Linked DNA regions of Homo sapiens. The protein of the gene in region 1 interacts with the protein of each later gene in a biochemical or structural test. Each region holds a gene or a part of one and is shown in the gene's direction. Other genes may lie near its edges.

Evidence for each region.
Region 2: of the proteins of RNF180 (region 1) and ACACA, one has a biochemical effect on the other in vitro, tested with the Homo sapiens proteins (one study listed by BioGRID).
Region 3: the proteins of RNF180 (region 1) and ZIC2 form a complex in vitro, tested with the Homo sapiens proteins (one study listed by BioGRID).

What each region holds. Positions count from the first base shown.
Region 1 is NC_000005.10:64,364,129-64,372,607, forward strand, and holds part of RNF180 (E3 ubiquitin-protein ligase RNF180), read left to right. Parts: intron 1-5,486; coding exon 5,487-5,686; 3' UTR 5,687-8,479.
Region 2 is NC_000017.11:37,256,837-37,263,836, reverse strand, and holds part of ACACA (acetyl-CoA carboxylase 1), read left to right. Parts: coding exon 1-152; intron 153-4,306; coding exon 4,307-4,477; intron 4,478-5,463; coding exon 5,464-5,625; intron 5,626-5,970; coding exon 5,971-6,134; intron 6,135-7,000. UniProt on the Homo sapiens protein: Cytosolic enzyme that catalyzes the carboxylation of acetyl-CoA to malonyl-CoA, the first and rate-limiting step of de novo fatty acid biosynthesis.
Region 3 is NC_000013.11:99,977,924-99,984,783, forward strand, and holds the start of ZIC2 (zinc finger protein ZIC 2), read left to right. Parts: upstream 1-3,860; 5' UTR 3,861-4,141; coding exon 4,142-5,216; intron 5,217-6,860. UniProt on the Homo sapiens protein: Acts as a transcriptional activator or repressor. Plays important roles in the early stage of organogenesis of the CNS.

The sequences.
Region 1 (8,479 bases):
AGAGTGGTTACAGAGGGCATCCTTGTCTTATGTTTTTCAAGGGGAATGCTTCCAGCTTTTGCCGATTCAGTATGATGTTGGCTGTGGTGTTGTCATAGATGGCCCTTATTATTGAGGTGTATTCCTTCAATGCCTAGTTGGTTGAGAGTTAACATGAAACAATGTTGAATTTTATTGAAAGCCTTTTCTGCATCTATTGAGATGATGGTTATTGTCTTTAGTTCTGTTTATGTGACAAATCACATTTATTGATCCACATACATTGAACTACACTTGAATCCCAGGGATAAAGCCTACTTGTTTGTGGTGGACTCGCTTTTTGATGTGCTGATAAATTCAATTTGCCAGTATTATGTTGTGGATTTTTGCATCGATGTTTGTCAAGGACATTGGCCTGAAGTTTTATTTTTTTGTTCTTGTGTCTCTGCAAGGCTTTGCTATCAGGATGATGTTGGCCTCATAGAATGCGTTGGGAAGGAGTCTCTCCTCAATTATTTTGGAATAGTTTCAGTGGGAATGGTACCAGCATTCTTTGTATATCTTACAGAATTTGGCTGTGAATCAGTCTGGTCCTGGAATTTTTTTGGTTGATAGGCTATTACTGATTCAATTTCAGAGGTCATTATTGTTTTCTTTAGGGATTCAATTTCTTTCTGGTTCAGTCTTGGGAGGGTATATGTGTCCAGGAGTTTGTCCATTTGTTGTAGATTTTCTAGTTTGTATGCATACAAGTGTCCGTAATATTCTCTAATGGTTACTTGTATTTCTGTGGAGTCAGTGGTGTAATATCCCCTTTGTTGTTTCTGATTGTTTACTTGGATCTTCTCTTTTATTATTTACTAGTCTAGCTAGTGGCCTGTCTTAATTTTTTCAAAAAAAAAAACAGCTTTTGGTTTTGTTGATCTTTTGAATGCTTTTTGTGTCTGTCTCCTTCAGTTCAGCTTTGATATTGATTATTTCTTGTCTTCTAGCTTTGGGGTTGGTTTGCTCTTGCTTCTCTAGTTGTAATGTTAGGCTGTTAATTTCAGATCTTTCTAACTTTTTGATGTGGGTGTTTAGTGCTGTAAGTTTCCCTTTTAACTCTTCTCATTAGTTTCAAAGAGCTTCTTGATTTTTGCCTTAATTTCATTATTTGCCCAAAAGTCATTCAGAAGCAGGTTGTTTAATTTCCATGTAAATATATAGTTTTGGGACCTCTTCTTATTGGATTCTGTTTTTATTGCACTGTGGTCCAGGGGTGTGGATGTTTTGATTTCAGTTTTAATTTTCTGGGAACTGTTTTATGTTCAATTGTGTGGTCAATTTTAGAGTATATGCCATGTGGCAATGACAAGAATGTATATTCTGTTGTTTGGGGGTTGAGAGTTCTGTCCATTTGGTCAAGTGTCAAGTTCAGGTCCCGAATATCTTTGTTAATTTCCCTCCTCAGTGATCTAGTACTTTCAGTGGGGTGTTGATGGCTCCCACTATTAGTGTGAGGGAGTCTGTGTCTCTTTGAAGGTCTCTAAGAGCTTGCTTTATGAATCTGGGTGCTCTTGTGTTGGGTGCATATATATTTAGGTTAAGTATTCTTATGGAATTGAACTCTTTACCGTTATGTAATGCCCCTCTTTGTCTTTTTTTATCTTTGTTGGTTTAAAGTCTTTGTGAAACTATGATTGCAACCCCTGCTTTTTTATGCTTTCCATTTGCTTGATAGATTTTTCTCCATCCCTTTATTTTGAGCTTATAGGTGTCATTGCATGTAAGATGAGTCTCTTGAAGACAGCATACCATTGGATCTTGGTTCTTTATACAGCTTGCCAAGCTGTGCCTTTTTTTAACTGGTATTTAGCATATTTACATTCAAGGTTAATATTGATATATGTGGATTTGATCCTGTTATGTTGTTAGTTGTTTATTATGCCAACCTGTTTTTATGGTTGCTTTATAGTGTCACTGGTCTGTGAACTTAGAGTTTTTGCAGTGGGTGATAACAGTCTTTCCTTTCCATATTTAATGCATCTTTCAGGAGATCTTATAAGGCTGGTATAGTGGTGACAAATTCCCTCAGTATTTGTTTGTCTGAAAAGGATATTATTTCTCCTTTGCTTATGAAGTTTAGTTTGGCCATATATGAAATTCGTGGTTGAATTTCTTTTAAGAATGTTGAATATAGACCCCCAATCTCTTCTGGCTTGTAAGGTTTCTGCTGAGAGGTCCACTGTTAGTCTGATGGACTACACTTTGTAGGTGGTCTTTCTCTCTAGCTGCCTTTAACACTTTTTATTTCATTTCCACCCTGGAGAATGTTATGATTATGTGCCTTGGGGATAACCTTCTTACTAAATATTTTGTATTCGCTGGATTTGAATGTTGGCCTCTATAGCTAGGTTGGAGGAGTTCTCGTGGATGATCTCCTGTAATATGTTTTCCAAGTTGCTTCTCTCCCCATCTCTTTCAGTAAATGAAATACAAAATATATTTAAGCACTTCAGTAACAGTTTAGATAAAGCAGAAGAAAAAATGTCAGAACTTTAAGACAGGTCTCTTGAAATAACCCAGTCAGACAAAAATAAAGAAAAAAAGAATTTTAAAAGGATGAACAAAGCCTGTGTGACATATGGGACACCATAAAGTGATCAAATATTCAAATTTTTGGTGTCCCAGAGATGAAGTGAAAACGAAAGGGATAGGAAACATATTTAATGAAATAATAGATGAGAACTTTGCAAGGCTAGAAATTTATTTACATATCAAGATACAGGAAGCTCAGAAATCCCCAAATAGACATACTGCAAAAAGGTTTCCTCCATGGTACATATGGCCAAACTATCAAGAGTCAAAGATAGAATTTTTAGAACAGGAAAAGTATCTAGTCACTTACAAGGGAACCCCAATCAGAAAACATTGGATTTCTTAGTAGAAACCTTACAGGCCAGAGAATAGAATGACATATTCAAAGTGCTGAAGAAAAAAATGGCAGCCAAGGATATTATACCTGACAAAGTTTTCCTTCAGAATTGAAGGATAAATAATGCCTTTTCCAGACAAGGAAATGCTGATGGAATTCATCACCACCAGACTGGCTCTGTAGGAAATGCTTAGGGGAGTCCTATACCTGGAAGCAAAAGAATGATATCATGAAAACACATGAAAGTAAAACCCAAATGGTAGAACAAACATACAAGAGAAAAAATACACAGGATACCACTATAGAAAACCACCAGACTACAAAGATAAACAATAAAATATTACATATACTCCATTAAAATGTACAAATATTGTGTAGCAGTAAAAAAAGTTTTTAAATCAAATCAGATATGATAGAAAGTCAGCCAAGATCAATTAGAAATTATTTAAAAACCTATTTGAAATGTAGCTCTACAAATTCTGTTTAAATATCACTTATTTCATGTTTATCTTTTTAAATTTCATGTTTTGAACCTACGTAAGTAAATATAATTTCCAAATAAACTTAATACATAAAAAATAGGATAGTTCTTGATTAAAGAGATTTGACTTTAAATGAGCATACTAATACCCAGGTAAATGCAACCTTGCCATCAGAATAAGCAGCCTGACCTAGAGAATATTTAACATTACTCAATTGTTATAATGAGTGAACCAGAGTTTGCTTCAGGCTAGAGCTTCACAGAACTTTTATCACCATAGTTGCTAGTGAGTACCAGAATTACATTTTTCTGCCTAGTTTATTATGCTGTCCCTGTTCCCTAACATGAATAAACACAGAAATACTTAAAGTAGAAAGCAGATAAGTAAAAAGCAAAAGATTAATAGGTTATCAGTCTTCAGAGAATTGAATTTTGTTTTTTAAATGACTGAGTTTATATATTGGTCAACCAAAAAAAACAAGTTGCTATTGAGCAGGTTTTTTCTCAAGCTCTAATTAGCATGTAAATACACAAAAGAAAATTGTATTTCATGATGTAATATTTCTCAGAAATGTCATATTCATTTAGTAATAAGTAGACTATAGTTGACTTTCAAGATTTGCTTTTTCTGTACCAACAAATCCCCATGCTTTGAACTCTATGGAAATTAAAGCTAAATTTCTTTAAAGGAGTATCATTATGTCTGTCTAGTTTATTCGATGCTAAAATAAGATATTCTTCTTAGAACTTTGCTCAAAGAACTAAACTGAATGAAATTCTCAAAGTATAAGATACAAGGTTAAGTTGGTGATCAGAAGTTATAAAAGCAGTTGTAAAAATAAAACATGATAAATTTAGAAAATATTCTCTTGAAAATAATTACATTTGATCCCCACAAATTTTTGAAGAAATCAGATAGTATAGATGAGAAATTCATGACCAAAAGAGTTAAATGACTTGCCCCAGCCAAGTGGCAGACCTAGGCAAATCTCCTGACTTCATATCCTGTGTTCTTTGCTACCCTGCCTTTAATGCACTGAACTAGAAGAGGCTACTCATCTGACAAAGGGCTAATATCCAGAATCTACAATGGACTCAAACAAATTTACAAGAAAAAAACAAACAACCCCATCAAAAATGGGCAAAGGATATGAACAGACAATTCTCAAAAGAAGACATTTATGCAGCCAAAAGACACATGAAAAAATGCTCATCATCACTGGCCATCAGAGAAATGCAAATCAAAACCACAATGAGATACCATCTCACACCAGTTAGAATGGCAGTCATTAAAAAGTCAGGAAACAACAGGTGCTGGAGAGGATGTGGAGAAATAGGAACACTTTTACACTGTTGGTGGGACTGTAAACTAGTTCAACCATTGTGGAAGTCAGTGTGGCGAGTCCTCAGGGATCTGGAACTAGAAATACCATTTGACCCAGCCATCCCATTACTGGGTATATACCCAAAGAACTATAAATCATGCTGCTATAAAGACACGTGCACACGTATGTTTATTGCGGCACTATTCACAATAGCAAAGACTTGGAACCAACCCAAATGTCCAACAATGATAGATTGGATTAAGAAAATGTGGCACATATACACCATGGAATACTATGCAGCCATAAAAAATGATGAGTTCATGTCCTTTGTGGGGACATGGATGAAATAGGAAATCATCATTCTCAGTAAACTCTCGCAAGGACAAAAAACCAAACACCGCATGTTCTCACTTATAGATGGGAATCGAACAGTGAGAACACATGGACACAGGAAGGGGAACATCACACTCTGGGGACTGTTGTGGGGTGGGGCGAGTGGGAAGGGATAGCATTGGGAGACATACCTAATGCTAAATGATGAGTTAATAGGTGCAGCACACTAGCATGGCACATGTATACATATGTAACTAACCTGCACATTGTGCACATGTACCCTAAAACTTAAAGTATAATAATAATAAAAAAAAAAGAAAAAACTGTCAGGAATACAACATAACTCCGCTCAGTGAAATCAGGATATGCTTTGTTTAACTGTACTTGTGTACAGCTTCTTTTCTGAGCACTAGCTTGAATTTAATGGGCTTTAATATGTTCATACATCTTCTAGGTTTCCGCAGACATGCAGCTCCAGTTACAAGAAGGCAGTTCCCACACGGTGCACACAGGATGGATTACCTGCACTTTGAGGATGATAGCCGTGGATGGTGGTTTGACATGGATATGGTGATCATATATATTTATTCAGTGAACTGGGTCATTGGATTCATTGTTTTCTGCTTTCTTTGCTATTTTTTCTTTCCGTTTTAGGAATTTCATACCTTACTACAATTGACCAATCATAAATGATGTAAATAACAATTGCTTAAACATTTTTAAATGTGCTTTGAAGTTTTTTTAATGTTGCATTATACAAATTGTTGATGTTTATAGAAAGCCTGAGAATAATGAATTTATTTATTAATGTTTTTCATGTAACAAACTAAACTTTATTCAAGAGCTAACCTACCCAGCACTTAGCAACAATGCACTATTAATTTCATAGTTGTTCTTGGGTTAGGATTTGGGGCTCTGATTTTATAATATCACTTTAATACTTATTTTGATTGTAAAAAACTGAAGTTTTCTCTCCACTTAAAAATAGTAAAAATACAAAAAGAAATGATAATCTAGGTAGATATTATCTTTACTGATAAAATATTTAGTCAATCACCACTTATTCTCAGGCAAATTATATGTATTAAAGATAAACCATATTCTCTGGGAACTAATCTAGCAGGGTATATTCAGTTTTGGTTTCTAATTGTCACTACTTATATCCCTTTCTAGTACCAAGAAAACTGACTATTCTTTTTGTACAGATCTAATTAGTACAACATTTTAAATTATTATAAACAGAATACTAAATACAAATCATGAGACTAATCCCTACCAATAAACACTTTAGCTAGCTATAAACACTTTCCAGATTGAAGGATTAATCACCAGAAGACATGAAAAATTTACCGACTTTTAGTAGTCTAAAAGAGCAATGCATGGTCCAAAATGTAATTTAGTGATTCATTTAAGTAGGAGATGGTCAAATATATTGTAAATGTGCAATAAAGAGTGGCTTTTAATTTTTTTAATGTCTGAATAAAGTATTGTTATAAATAGGCTTATCGATTTTAGAAAGAAAACCTGACATTTTTAATTACAGTAATCATTAATTTTTTTCATTATTAAAATTTAAAAATAAGAGAACTGAATCATTAGAACATGGAATTGGGGCAGGTAACCCAATTCAAAAAAGGAAAAACTGGAGCAGAGACTTAAGCTTATTTATTCAGTTATTCTGGTGGTCTTTGTGAAACCTGGGACAAAGTTTTTATTATGAATTACTAATCCAGTATTACTACACTATGATGTCATATATCTGGTAATTCAATAAGCAAACTTTTACATAAAATAGGTGACTCTCTCGTGGCACTAAAAATACTACCACTATCCAAAAACATTGGGATCAACTGGGCTTTAACAGTTTCAATCTATGAAAAGCCAAAATTTAAGCTAATTGCTACTAACTGTATTTCAATAAAAGCACTTGACTGTTGGTATGTGATGTTCTAAGAAAACTAGAAGAATGGTACTGATTTCTATTCTAATGCTGTTCTTATTATTGTGTTTTAAATTATATCTATTACAGAAAATAGTATACACTAGACATCAAATCCAGAAATCAGAACACTAAGTACAATTTAGAAACACAGATAAATTTATACTTATAAATGGATATTTATAATTACTAATTGCTCAAAGTAAACATAAGGGAAAATATCAGCTCTCTTAAAATATATAGCAAGATTGAAAACACACATATGAGGAGTTGCATTATTTTAAGAACTTTAAATTGCAGCCATTTCCTAGGCAACTTCTGGTTTATACACTCTAGAAAATATATCTTGATTCATTCCTAAATCACAATAAAGGTTTTAATTATGTATAAACTAAATAAGTATTATTATAGATACAGATCTCTCATAGGAACAAAGTTGATTCCCAATATATATTTGTTAGGTCAGTGATACATATCAGTTTATAGATCTCAGTCTACTAAATATTTATGATACCCTTAAATAAACATGAACCTTTAAATGAAGAAAGCATAATCTGGAAAAGCATTCAAAATGGATTGAGTATATTTATCTTGACTAATAACTTGATCTGAAAATTATAGAATATTAAAAGAAGTAAATTCATAAAATTATAAATTACTAATCTTTAAAATATTCTTAAATTTTGTAAAAGTGGAGATAAAAACTGCTAAATATTAAGAAGTATAGCATTTCCTAGATCTACCAGCTTATAAGAAGCCAGATAAAATCTCAGATGGAAAGAAACCAGTTTCTTCTGGTATGTAGCACACAGTAGCCATTCAAAATAAAATACATGGATGAGCTTTAGAGTAAAACAAAAAATTATAATGCTCTTCCTAAGCATCTCTCACAGTAAAAACTCACTGTCCAATAAAGAGCCAAAGAAAGGAAAAGAAGAAAAATGTTAAAGTTAATGAAGCATAGTACTTGTCCCAAGTAATATTATTTAATAAGCTTAATTTTATGAGTTATCATTATCAATAATTTCTATTTCTACCAAGCTTAATTATGGTAAAGGTTAATTTTAAACATGTTCACACATTCTTTTTTAAAAAAATGCCCTAATTGAGGTATATTTCTGAATAGTTTCAGCAGGTTATTTTTTAATTTTAAAAAAGCAAATTCACAAACCTAGACCCATTTATTTTATACTCAGCAGAAGACAGGGAAATTTAAATTAGACAAAGTTGAAAAAGAATCAGAATTTATATTTTACAAAGCTTCTACCACTCTGAATCAACAAAATCAGGAATGGAAAAAAAAATTTCTGTATCTGCTGAATTATTAATGCCACTATAGTATTATATGCTAAATATGAAAGCAGTGCTGCCATCAGTTTCACTTCTGCCTTGGAATCTTGCTCCTAAGTTAGCTCTGTGGCATAACAAAATTCCAGTTAATAAAATTTTCATTTAAATGTCTTTTGTATGGCTAAATGAATATACAGATTCTTAAACATCTAATTTTT
Region 2 (7,000 bases), on another chromosome or scaffold:
GTCATCTGGAGGTGCAGATCTTAGCGGACCAATATGGCAATGCTATCTCTTTGTTTGGTCGTGATTGCTCTGTACAACGCAGGCATCAGAAGATTATTGAAGAAGCACCTGCTACTATTGCTACTCCAGCAGTATTTGAACACATGGAACAGGTACATATATTAAAAGGCTTACTTTATGTTTTCTTACATAGAACATTTTTCATTCAGTTCATGTACCAATCTGAGAACAATGGCATTTTAAGCAACGATTCTGAATAATTAATAAAATTATATCCTTTTCTTAGAGAAAAAAAATTCTACTGTTCTCCCACTAAGAGAATTGTCAAGGAACATGTCAAGCTTCTAAAAGTAGTTAACGCTTTCTAAAAAAAATCAGCGTACCATTTCAGGATACAGGGATAAAGAAGAGAAATGTTTTGGAATTTTTAATCTTATGATTGATTTTTTTAAGAGGCTCATAATCAGGTAGTTTTATTTGCTGGGTTGAGTATCATCAAGTCTTCAGCTGAATTTAATCAACTCTATTATCGTTTTTGGAAAGTCCTCTAAATATCTTCAGAGTTCACACATTCTATCTTTTTGTATAGAAAGTAGTTTCTCAAAGTCATGAGCGATGCCTTCGGAATAACTATAGTTTAGAGGCCTGAACATAGTCTTTTCTGGAGTCCTAACCCAGTCTCTACATCAAAATAGATTCTTCAAAATATATTTCATGTGTGTTAGAGGTCTATTTCCTATGTTGTGTATATATTAGGATGTACTCTTGAACTGCTGTAATAAAGATGCCTTCAAAATACAGTGGCTTGGCCGGGCATGGTGGCTCTTGCCTGTAATCCTAGCACTTTGGGAGGCTAAGGCGGACAGATCACTTGAGCCCTGGAATTCGAGACCGGCCTGGGCAATATGGTGAAACCCTATCTCTACTAAAAATACAAAAATTAGCTGAGTGTCATGGCACACGTCTGTACTCTCAGCTGCTTGGGAGGCTGAGGTGGGAGGATCACTTGACACTGGGAGGTCAAAGCTGCAGTGAGCCTTGATCATGCTACTGCACTCCAACCTGGGTGACAGAGCAAGACCCCATCTCAAAACAAATAAATAAATAAGCAAAATACGGTGGCTTAAACAAGGTGTAAGTTTCTATTTCTCTTTCATCATAGTTCAGAGATGAGCTGTTACCAGAAACAGGTTTATTGCTCACCTGTTGCCTGTTTTTGTAAATAAAATTTTGTTGGAACACAATGATGCTTATTTATTTATGTGTTATTTATGGCTGCTTTATCACTACAATGGTAGAATTGAATAGTTGTGACAGAGGCTATATGGCCCACAAAATTGAAAATAATTACTATCTGGCTCTTTACCAAAAAAGTTTGCCAAACTTTGCTCTTGGACATTGTCATCTTCATGATTAAGCTAACTCACACAAGATTATGTTCACATTGTGGCCTGTGGGAGGAAGAGACAGGGGATGTGGAGGGCAAGCATATGGAAGCATGATCTTGAAGTCACATACATCACTTCTGCTCACATTCCACTGGACAAAATTCAGTTACACAATTATACCTAGCACAAAGGATGTTAGGAATTGTGATCACTAACTGGGTGACCATGTGCTCAGCAAAAATTTCGATTTTATTCCTAAAATGATGAAGTAGAGAAAAGTCACTGGAGGGCATTTCATAATCTGTGCCTCAGTCTGTTCCTCTGGCTACCTATTATCCCTTTATCCTTTTTCCTACTTTCAGAGCACACATAGCCTTTGTCCAAGGAAGACAACCTGAAGCCCCATCCAGTTACTAGTAACTGGATGGGTTATTACTGGAGGTGATTCCGGATCTCTATATGATGTATATTCTTCTCCATTAGATATGTATTGTGGCTTTTCATGGGCCAGTGACTCAAAATACAAGTTATTTACCCAGTATTATATCCCCTGCCTTCACCATACACCCATATACAATGATGGAATAGGAACAGGATAACTCTCATTTGGAAAAATGAAAAATACATAGCAATCGTTGGTCCATAGCAGTTATCAAATCCTCCTTTTTAGGTAGGAATTGCAATGATTCCCTGCTATATAATAGAATACTACCTCAGTTAGACCTGGCTGTCCCTGGTTCTGCTACTGCACACTCCAGAGAAGTGCAATAAGGGAGTAAATCCCTTGTTCATTGTCCTTCAAGACACCTGACATTGTTTTCTGGGAAGTTCTTCCTCATTCAGTTTTCTCTGTGAGTTGGGCTTTGGAGACTATGCCTTCTTTGGCAGAACTTTCACAACCCACTTCCTGCTGGTGCAGGATTGAGGGCACAAATATCCCAATCATCAGTCGCAGGCTTTTGAAGGCCAGGTTTGTGGTTTGTTTAGAAATACAATTCCTTCAAATACTTAACTAAGCTTCTGGGCTATTTGCTTGCAATCAGCTTTGGGTTGGATTAATCATACTCATAGATTTCTTCTAGATATAGAAACTTTTCTTCTATTATTTACTGGCTTCTGTGCTTAGCCTATCTCTCTTGCCTTGATTTAATATTGGCTATCTTGGGGCCAGCTGAAACTAAAGCAGCACGTTTGATCTTTGACACTGAGTTGCTTCAGGGTGATAATCTCATTTTCTGTTTGGGGGGATACAAAAGAAGTTGGCTTTTTCGACACTCTGACCCTTTCAGACCATCTTTTTTAAGGTTTAGTTGGTGTGTGGTCAGTATCCCAAGTTATTGTAGGAAACAGTTTACCAAATGTTGTGTTATCCCAACAAGGAGATTATCACCTTTCCAGCCTGCAGTATCTGTTTCTCTGCTACCCACTACCCTTTTGCTAAGCTAGCATCTCATATTTTAATATTTTTAAACAGCAACATTCTACCTGCACTTAATAATTCCTGTATCGATTAGGATACAGGTTAAACTGCTATAACAAAAAGGTCCAAAAAACACAGCGGACCCCCCCAAAAATAGAAGTTTATTTTTCTCTCCCATCCTAGTCTGAGGTGAGCTTTTCAGGGCTGGTGGAAGTGTTTTATTCCACGAGACCATCTTGGGATTCAGGTTCATTCTTTCTTTTCTTTTTCTTTCTTTTCTTTTCCTTTCTTTTCTTGGTGTTCTTAGTGTGTTCTCATTTGCATGATTGAAGTTGGCTTATACTATCATGACTATGTTCCAATGAATAAGAAGGAAAAAGCCAGGAATAGAGAATGAGACATTTCCTTTTCAAAATATGACTTAGGGCTGGGTGCTGTGGCTCACGCCTATAATCCCAGCACTTTAGGAGGCTGAGGTGGGCGGATCACCTGAGATCAAGAGTTCGAGACCAGCCTGGCCAACATGATGAAAACCCATCTCTACTAAAGATATAAAAATTAGCCTGACATGGTGGCATGTGCCTGTGATCCCAGCTACTCAGGAGGCTGAGGTAGGAGAATCACTTGAATCCGAGAGGCGGAGGTTACAGTGAGCCGAGATTGCGCCACTGTGCTCCATCCTGGGTGGGTGACAAAGCGAGACTCCATCTCCAAAAAAAAAAAAAAAAAAAATATATATATATATATATATATATATATATATATATATATATATATATGACTTGGGAGTTATGCATATCACTTACCAATGCTGGTGTCCTGTTTGTCAAAACTTAGCCACTAACCAGGCCAGGCATGGTGGCTCACGCCTGTAATCCCAGCACTTTGGTAGGCCAAGGCGAGTAGATCACTTGAGGTCAGGAGTTTGAGACCAGGCTGGCCAACATGGGGAAACCCCATCTCTACCAAAAATACAAAAATTAGCCAGGCATGGTGGCGCATGCCTGTAATCTCAGCTACTTGGGGGGCTGAGGCAGGAGAATCACTTGAACCCGGGAGGCAGAGTTTGCAGTGAGCCACGAGATTGTGCCACTGGACTCCAGCCCAGGAGACAGAGTGAGACTCTGTCTCAAAAAAAAAAAAAAAAATCTAGTCTCTAACTAGTTAGCTATGTTTCTAGGAAGAAGAGGAGCATATTGGAAATACTGGAAACTGGACAAGAGTCTGTCCCCATGTTTTTTTGTCTGCATGCATTTATGTCTGGTGGGGTGAGGTTGCTTTTGATGCAAAGTGAAAAATGCTCTTTTCTCCCGATTTTTCATTGAGTTTTTCATCCTTGTCCAGGGATATTGTATAATAATCAGAAATGTGCTCTCATGTGGCTAAAAGCTTTTGATGGCTCTTATACACACTGAACAGTTGAGTCAGTGAGAGGCTGTAGTGGTCTAGCAGTTGGATAAGGTGAGATACTTATGTTTGCTTATCTCTCTTCTTTGAGTGTGCGGTGAAACTTGCCAAAATGGTGGGTTATGTGAGTGCTGGGACTGTGGAATACCTGTACAGCCAGGATGGCAGCTTCTACTTTCTGGAATTGAATCCTCGGCTGCAGGTAGAGCACCCTTGTACAGAGATGGTGGCTGATGTCAATCTCCCTGCAGCACAGCTCCAGGTGAGTCTCCCTGATCTGGGTTGCAGAGCCTAGAAAAGTCAGAGAGGCCTGAAAAATGGGTTTAACCAGTGTGTGATAAGAGAAAAGCACCTCCTATCTGAGTCACACCTAATGGTCATTTCTCTTTCACCCTGTATGTGTTATGCATGTGTGGTTTGGTTTTCCTGATGTAGTACAGACATAGGAATGTTATTTTTTCTAGCCAGACACATCTGATATAATGTGTCATGTTTTAGAAATAAATGTTAATAATGTATGCTTTATTCAATTATTTAGCTATAGTAAACTTCACAACTTTGTATTATAATTATTCCCTACTCATTTTTGTTTTTTTACTAGTGTTCTTTATTGAAATAATTCTGCATCAGAGATTAGTGGTTGAAGTTTTTCCTTACAAGAGTGTGGTAGCACACATATATTTTTATAATTTGTAAAGTGCTTGCTGTCAATATTATTGTCTTCTCTCAGCCCAGGAAACAAATATTATGGAAAGCAGTAATAGTTAATGATAAGGCTTGATATTATTTTTATCTAACATTTGCCCACATCGAGAACACCTTCTGGGTTCCTATTAAAGACTAAAGATTTACTTACTTCCTCCAGTGGTTTGCAGGGATGGAAGAGATAATTATGACACAATTAAGACTTTCTAGCTGTCTGTTTTTGGATGGCTATTAACATTTACTCCTCTGTTGGATATTTTCATTCTTATTACGTGATGGAGAAATGACAACAGGGGAACTGGTGTCTGTTGCATTAGGAATGTGGGGACTTCTTTAGAAGTGGAGAATATTCTAACTACTTATCTGTAGTGATATATTGTATTTCAAGCAACTTAGAGTTGATGATTGTAGAATACAGGTTATAAAAATAGAATGTTTTAGGGAGTGGCTCCAAAAATAAAAATATTTTAGGTTATCTGATAGCCTCTACACTTTAAGGGAAGTAACTGAAAAATTAAAGATGTGTGTTTTATTACCTTTCAGATTGCCATGGGGATTCCTCTATATAGAATCAAGGATATCCGTATGATGTATGGGGTATCTCCCTGGGGTGATTCTCCCATTGATTTTGAAGATTCTGCACACGTTCCTTGTCCAAGGGGCCATGTTATTGCTGCTCGGATCACTAGTGAAAATCCAGATGAGGTAACCCATCACTTAAAAGGTTTATACCTCCTTTTAATGAACTTTAATGTTAAGATAGTATCTGAAAGTATACTTCTGAAATATCTTGGGACTTCCTCTGGAGTGGGAAACATAGAGGTTTCTCAGAGCAGATAAGTAAATGGTTGTTGCTTCATTGGTTACTTAATCCCACTTAAGTCACTGTAGAGTCTTCAGTGGGTCTGTGGCACTGGGTCTTGGCCTTTATCATTTTTGTGTGTCTTCTCTGCTTCTGTGTGTGATTAACAGAGAACTTAAACAATGAATATATAAATCTTCTCTTCCTTCGAAACATAATATGGTCTCTCATTCTTTATTCTCTAACAGGGTTTTAAGCCCAGCTCAGGAACAGTTCAGGAGCTAAATTTCCGCAGCAATAAGAATGTTTGGGGATATTTCAGTGTTGCTGCTGCAGGGGGACTTCATGAATTTGCTGATTCTCAGTTTGGTCACTGCTTTTCTTGGGGAGAAAACAGAGAAGAGGCAATTTCGTGAGTATAATAGCATTTGATTGCATTTTACAAAATAAATTTGTGCTAATCTTAAGTGAAGGTGTGAGCATGGGAATAGGAATCATCTGCTGTCAAAGTAATAATATGAACAACCTTTTTGAAGAAATTTTGAATATCTTTAATTACACTTGCATTCATGTTGTATTAAATTATGCAGTGCTTGGCAGATGTTTTTCTGTTTGTTGTTCTGAGCCTTTTGAAGTATTTTTCCTTTCAAATATTTTTGATAAATGTATAAAATTGATTGCTTTAAAGGTATCTTATTTTTCCACAGGAACAGTATTGTTATTGAGGGGAGGTAGATTCTTGGCCAAGAACTAGGTATCAAATAAATCATAGACTTTTATTTTATTTTTTTCTTGTGAGAAGACTTAAAATCTATTAGCAATTTTCAAGTACACAATCTATTGTTATGAGCCATAGTCACCATGATGTACTCTTATAGTTATTTAAAATAATAAAATTATACTGCTCATATTATGAAAAGGACATAAAGAAACTGTCTACATTGCTAATACAAGAGACCTTAGCATGCTGTATATAACAGCTTATGCAAATATAACTGCTATATCATAAATGTTAGATAATATTCTGTTAATCATAAACAATGAATATTAAATTAACAGCACTTTTGCTTGCCTAAAACATAGGGCTGAAGGAGGTAATTTTAACAGCTTAGATCTTTTGGAATATCTATCTAAAATTGAAACTTGAACTAGTTCTTTTCTGTTTTTTAATGGTTTATTGCCTTGTATCAAACATTTAATACCATTCCCTTTACCTTTGTACTGTACATGGAGTAGGTAATTAATAAGTGTTTATTAGTATTAATTACTAATAAATAG
Region 3 (6,860 bases), on another chromosome or scaffold:
TGTTTGGCGGGATTTTCTGGTTTTTGAAGACAACCCCAATTCTCCATCGCGCTGCCATTCCCTCTACTTGCCGAGAAATGAACACTGGCCCCCGCGGCCCTGAGCTGGATCCGCTCAAGCCCCGGCCTGCCGCCCAGTCGCACGCAGCCTCCGTAAGATTTCGGAAGCATAGTTTTGGGAAATTTACAAAGAGGGGACTTGTTTGCCGGATGGAGACAGTTGTGGGTCCTGCGGCCCTGACACTGCCACAGACGGGCCCTTCCAGAAACCTGTTGAAAAACTGAATTCACTCACACTGTGCATAACGCCGCTTGGCCGCTTTTTTCCTTCAGCCAAGGAACCCGAGTCTACTTTTAAGGCAGTAACTCTGAAAGCCTTTGCATGCTTTTTTTTTTCCCCTTGGTCTCTCTAGCTCTCTCTTCACTTTCCTTCCTTAAAAAAAAAAAGTCATGAAGTAAAGGGGTTTTGCGGTTTGTAGAGAAATAAAGCACTTCTGAGAAGGGACGGCGACGTGACTTTGAACTTGGCTCAGCTCTTCTGTGCCCTGCAGAGAGAGGAGAACTAGAGCCGGGAAAGAATAGCCAGGAGCGCCCAACCCGTAGGGTCTCCGGCGGGAATTAAGGCGTCCGCCCCACCGCCCGGCCGCGCGCGGCCCCTGGAATCCGGCGCGAGCGAGCGCCCAGCCGCGCGATCCCCAAACGCGGGAGCAGCAAAGGCGAAATCAAAGCGAAAGAGAGAATGGGTCAAAGAGGAGAGGGAGGGAGGACTGGGGAGGGGGTAAGACAGTGGGAAAGGAGGAAAACTTCGAAGTCTGATGGCCTGAAAGAAGGAAGGGAAGTGAGGTCTCTGCATGTGCAGGTCTGCTATTCTCATAACCAATCTCCAAGAAAACATTTTCCTTCGGAAATATTTTTGGAGTAAGCCCTTCCAAATACTCTCCTCTCGTGCTCGCCTCCCATTCCCATAAAAATTGATGAATAAAGCAAACAAGTGTGTAGTACAAAAATTGCACTAGGCAATTTTTAATGGATTCAACGTGGCAGGGCAGCCTTTCTGCCAAAGATGTTCTCTTTTCTCTCTGCGTCTATGTCTCAGGTCCCTTTAGGTCTAGGGGGCCAGTTTGGCTAGTGCCCTCCGCCCCCTTTTATGCACAGAGAGAGGGGTGTGGAAATGGGAACGTTTCCTCCTTTCAGGGAAGGTGAGAATCTCCATCTTCCAGGCAAACTGCCTTGCTTTCAGACAGGATGCCACAGCCTGCCTCCTTCTTGCACCCCCACCCCACCCCCAGGACAGGGAAGAATGGGACGGAGGGAGGGCACAGGGCTCCTTATGCAAGGGGCTGCGGCCAGCGCCAACCTGCAGAGACTCGCTTAAGCCGGGAGAGGCTGCCTGAGCCGGCGCAAGAGAGCCCGGGTTCTGCCAGCCATAGTGAGCTAGAGGATTCTTCCCGCGTTTTTGTTTATTTCATTTCAGAACATAATTCTGAAAAATTTATTATTTTCTCTTCGTTTAATTTTATTTCAACTCCTAGAGATTTATAAATAAAAGCAGTTCTCCAGGCCAGCCAGGAGAACACGCCCGAGGCGCTGGCCTCAGGCTGTCCCTTCACACCTCCGCAGCCTCTGGGCCCTCCGTTCCCTCTCTAGTTACCTCGGGAGCGCGAGATTTGGGCGGCGGGACAGGAAACGTCCGCAGCGGTCAGCCAGGCGCGGCGCCGGGAGCGGCCTCGCCGCTGGGCCACCGCCCGGGTGGTACTCCCTGCTCCTGGAGAAGGAGTGGATGGATATATATGCTTTCTAGAAGGTTTAAGCCCTGCCGTGTCTGACGGCTTCTTCTCCCGAGACCCTGAGCCTGACCCGCAGCCAAACTCCGGCCTGAGTCTCGCTTGGTCTCGGGCGTTCCCACACTTCTCAGCCCAAGGATGCGCGGCCCGGCTTCTGGGCATTTACCCTGAGGGTGACACTGTCTTTAAACGACTTCCGAACAACCCCCTTCCACGCAGGGGCCGCTGCCCAGTGTTTACTGCTGTAAACGGAGCAGGACGCAAGCGGCGGGTGGGGAGCTCAGCGCGCCGAGGGGCGGACGGGGACGCCGCGGGGGGCGGGGAAGGCGGTGTCTGGGTGGGCGTCCGGAGGGTGGGAAGAAGGGGCATGCCTGGCTTTCTCTGTGCCCACGGTCCTGCACCTGTGGTTTCAATGCCACAGAGCAAGTTTACAAAGGCGGGGTGAAAGTAGGGAGCGTGCCAAGCGGGCAGCAGACCAGCCCCCCGCCGCTCCTTGTGGCGCGCTCCCGGCGAGGCCCCGGGCCTGAAATGTCCCCGCGCGCAGAGCCTCCTGCCAGGCGACCCAGCTGTTAGCCACCTCTCGAGCGGCCTGGAGTGCTCGGGCCAGGCGTCCCCGGGGTTTTCGGTGTCCGCTGGGAGCTGCTCAGATCCCGGGGAAGTCGGTGGCCTACGCAGAAAGACTGGAGCGCTGGGTTGCCTCCCATTCCTGACCCGGCTGAGGGCGCCCTGACCCCGCGGCCCGGGCCCGCGTCCGAGCCACGCTGGACGCCCGGCTCCCGGGAGCGCCGCGGTCGGCCAGGACTAGAAGCCGCGGCGCCGAGGTCTCGGGAGAAGCGCGGCAGGATGGCAGGCCGGGCCCACGGGCACGTTCGGCGGCTGCCTGAGCCGGCAGCAGCTCAGGGAGCGCGAGGACTGAGGGGCGGGCCCGGCAGCGGGGCGGGGGCGCGGGACTGACTAGGCCGCGGCGGCCAATCGCGGCGCCGGGAGGGCGGGCGGGGCGGGAGCCGCCGTTAAAGGGGCGGTTTGACCGGGGGGGCCCGGCCTCGAGCTGGAGGGAGGGAGGGAGGCCGGGGCGGGAGACTAGGGGGTGCGGGGGGAGGGGAGAGGAAAAGGAGGAGACAAAAAATAAAAAATAAAAGGCTGCCGCTGCAGCGTTGGCGGCGCCCATCGAAATCAACGGAGGCGGTGGCGAACGCAGCCCACCGCAGCCGAGACCTGGGAGCCCGCCTGGGCCTCACACTCCCTCGGGTCGCGGACTGCGCTGGGTCCACGCGGCGCGGTCACTAGTTCCGGGCCCAGCGCCCAGGCCCGACCGGCGGGAGGGAGGAGGCGAGCGAGAGATCACTTTTTTATTGTTGTTATTGTTTTTCAGCCCAGCCTCCCCCTCCTCCCCTCCCCCTGCTCGCTTTCTCCCCTCCCACATCCCCCTCCCCCCTACTCCCCCGCCTCCTCCTCCGGCACAACTTAAAGAAAGGGGGAGCGGCGCGGCTGCTGCCTTCATCTGGGGAAATTCGTGGCCACTGCAAGTTTACTACGCGAGGCGCAGCCAATGCCAAGCGCCGAGGCCGAGGAGGGCTAAACACTGCGGCCGCGGCTCCGAACAATAACCGCCGCGCGCGGGGCGGCGCGAGTAGGGCCGCGGGGGAGGGAGCTGTCGCCGCAGAGCGCCGCGGAGAGGACGCCTGGACTCCGCCTGCCGCCCCGGCGCCCCCGCCGCGGTCAGGTGGAGCCGCTGGTGCGCTGGCCCCGGGTGCCGAGCGCGGAGCTCGCCTCGGTCCTCTCCTCGCCCGTCTGCCTGGCGTGCGCACGGCCGCCGCGGTTGTGACTGCATTCTACCGGCGCTGCTCGGTGCGGCCGGGCTCCGGGTCCGCTGGGCGTGCGAGTGAGTGTGTGCGTGCGCGCGCGGGTGCGCGCAGGGGTGGGGGCTGCGGCGCGGCGCTCGCCCCCCGGTAGCCCCCCTCTCCTCTCGGCTCCCCACACCTCCCTCCGGCTCCCTCCTCCCGCCCGCCCTCCCCTGCCCTGCCCGCCCGCCCCCGCCGCAGCTCCTTTAATACACTTTGGTTCTCCGCCTGGCTTTGGACTCTTCTCCTCCTCCACCTCCTCCTCCTCCTCCCGCGCCGCCGCCTCCTCCTCCTCTTCCTCTCCGCGCCTTCGCTACGCGCCCGGCCGCCCGAGGCAGATCCAGGCGGCGGCGGAGGCGGCGGGCGCAGGAGAGCGGCTCCCAGGGCTGAAGTGGCCGCCACCACCGCCGCCTGCGCCTGGAGCCCGGTGGCCGCCGGACGCACCGCGCGGATCGGGAGCGGGAGTCGAGGCGGCGCGGAGGCGCAGGGCTCGCAGGGGCGGGCGGGCGCGCTGGCCATGCTCCTGGACGCGGGTCCGCAGTTCCCGGCCATCGGGGTGGGCAGCTTCGCGCGCCACCATCACCACTCCGCCGCGGCGGCGGCGGCGGCTGCCGCCGAGATGCAGGACCGTGAACTGAGCCTGGCGGCGGCGCAGAACGGCTTCGTTGACTCCGCCGCCGCGCACATGGGAGCCTTCAAGCTCAACCCGGGCGCGCACGAGCTGTCCCCGGGCCAGAGCTCGGCGTTCACGTCGCAGGGCCCCGGCGCCTACCCCGGCTCCGCTGCGGCTGCCGCTGCGGCCGCAGCGCTCGGGCCCCACGCCGCGCACGTTGGCTCCTACTCTGGGCCGCCCTTCAACTCCACCCGGGACTTCCTGTTCCGCAGCCGCGGCTTCGGGGACTCGGCGCCGGGCGGCGGGCAGCACGGGCTGTTCGGGCCGGGCGCGGGCGGCCTGCACCACGCGCACTCGGACGCGCAGGGCCACCTCCTCTTCCCGGGCCTGCCAGAGCAGCACGGGCCGCACGGCTCGCAGAATGTGCTCAACGGGCAGATGCGCCTCGGGCTGCCCGGCGAGGTGTTCGGGCGCTCGGAGCAATACCGCCAGGTGGCCAGCCCGCGGACCGACCCCTACTCGGCGGCGCAACTCCACAACCAGTACGGCCCCATGAATATGAACATGGGTATGAACATGGCAGCAGCCGCGGCCCACCACCACCACCACCACCACCACCACCCCGGTGCCTTTTTCCGCTATATGCGGCAGCAGTGCATCAAGCAGGAGCTAATCTGCAAGTGGATCGACCCCGAGCAACTGAGCAATCCCAAGAAGAGCTGCAACAAAACTTTCAGCACCATGCACGAGCTGGTGACACACGTCTCGGTGGAGCACGTCGGCGGCCCGGAGCAGAGCAACCACGTCTGCTTCTGGGAGGAGTGTCCGCGCGAGGGCAAGCCCTTCAAGGCCAAATACAAACTGGTCAACCACATCCGCGTGCACACAGGCGAGAAACCCTTCCCCTGCCCCTTCCCGGGCTGTGGCAAAGTCTTCGCGCGCTCCGAGAACCTCAAGATCCACAAAAGGACCCACACAGGTAACCGCGGGCTGGGACAGGGACCAGGCGCGGAGGGGAGACACGCACAGGCTGAGACTCAGGCTGTGGGTGCCGACGCTGGGCGCAGACCGCCAGCCGGGGACCTGGGATGGGAGGTGTTTTTGCGTGTACGAAAGAGCCAGCAGCTTGTTTCTGTTGGACGATGACAATATTATTGGGCTAGGTTTTTCCATGTGCGGAAATCGAGTTTTGAATGATTAGCCTCACATCAAATGTATGCTTGGGTCATGCAATTGCTTCGTTTGCTCAGCCCCGGTTAATAATTTCCGTTTTAAGTAGAAAGCACAAAATAAAACTGCTCGCTAATTCGGTGCCCGGGAAGCGAGCCTAGAGAGGATTTTGCCAGCTTGTCTGAATGTGCTTTTCTGCTCGGAGTGTATGTCTGTCTGAGTGGTTTGTGTGTTTTCCCACTTCTTTTACTCGGGGTCCAAACGCCCTTCCCGGGACTGTTTCCCATGAAATGAGTCTGGTGTGAGCCGAAGCTGTAATGCGTTTCTCATTTTTAAAGTGTTTTTAAAGCCCGTCTCGGGGTGGGTCGCGGGGGCTTTACTGTGGTTTCGCAGCAGTTTGTGAAATTCTCTAATGGGCACCACAGAGTTTGCGATTCCCAACTTGGACCCAGGTCAGCTAGAGCCCCAGGTCAGCTAGAGCCCCAGGCAGCGCGGCCCCGCGGGGGGATCGCGTGAGAAGAGAGAGCCGCAAAAGAACGCGCCTCCCGCCTCATAGATTATTCATCTATGACCAGGTCTCAGCCAAAATCGTGCCAGACGATTTCCTAAAAGAAAGCCAAATGTTTTAGCAACTTCCCCCGTCAATATTTACTCCGAAGTGGGGATGCGCCAGCGGCCTATTGTTCTCTTCCGGGAAGGGAGGGAGCCGAGGTGCGAGACAAGCTTTTAACAAGGTTTAAAATTTGAGAAATTTATTTGCATGAAATGCTCGCTTTCGAGTCCTGTGTCTGAGCGGATGTCTTTAAGAAACAATTTAGGTGCTAATGGAATTTAACGTTAAACGGTCCCCTTTCCAAGTGGAACGACGTTTGAGTTCTCGCACCTCTAAATGACTCCAAGCATTTGGAATTCTGGCAACAGGATGCAGAGACAGCCAGAAAATTAAACGGGGAGGTTTTGAAAGGCTTTGCTGACTCCCCCAACCCTCGCCCACCAGCTTGTGCCTCTCCGCAGTCACTAGATGCTGCCTTATCTCTAATATTTACCTTTTCTTCAACTTATTTTTTTAAAGACGGGAGGTGAGACTAGAATTGTGGTTAATTCAATTTGCAGAATTTTGGATGAAAAATACTGGCTCAGTCACTCTCCACAGCCCGGCCCCCAAACAACACGTAGCAACTCCAAATGTAATTGCTTACTGGCCCTGGCGAGAAACCGACAGCAGCCCAGCAGCCTGTGTGATTTTGATAATGCCCCAAATATTTTGTCATAATAACAGCTTCTCCGTGGCGAGAGCAACTTGTTAGAAGCTGCAAATCCAAGAAGCCCTCTAGAAAGGCAGGCAGGGCTAGGAGCTTCCCCACATTCCTGAGAAATTTGAGGAGATGGACGTCAGCCTGGAAGAAAGTAAAATACGAAATAAATGAGCAGGACTGTCGGGCGGGAAGGCGGT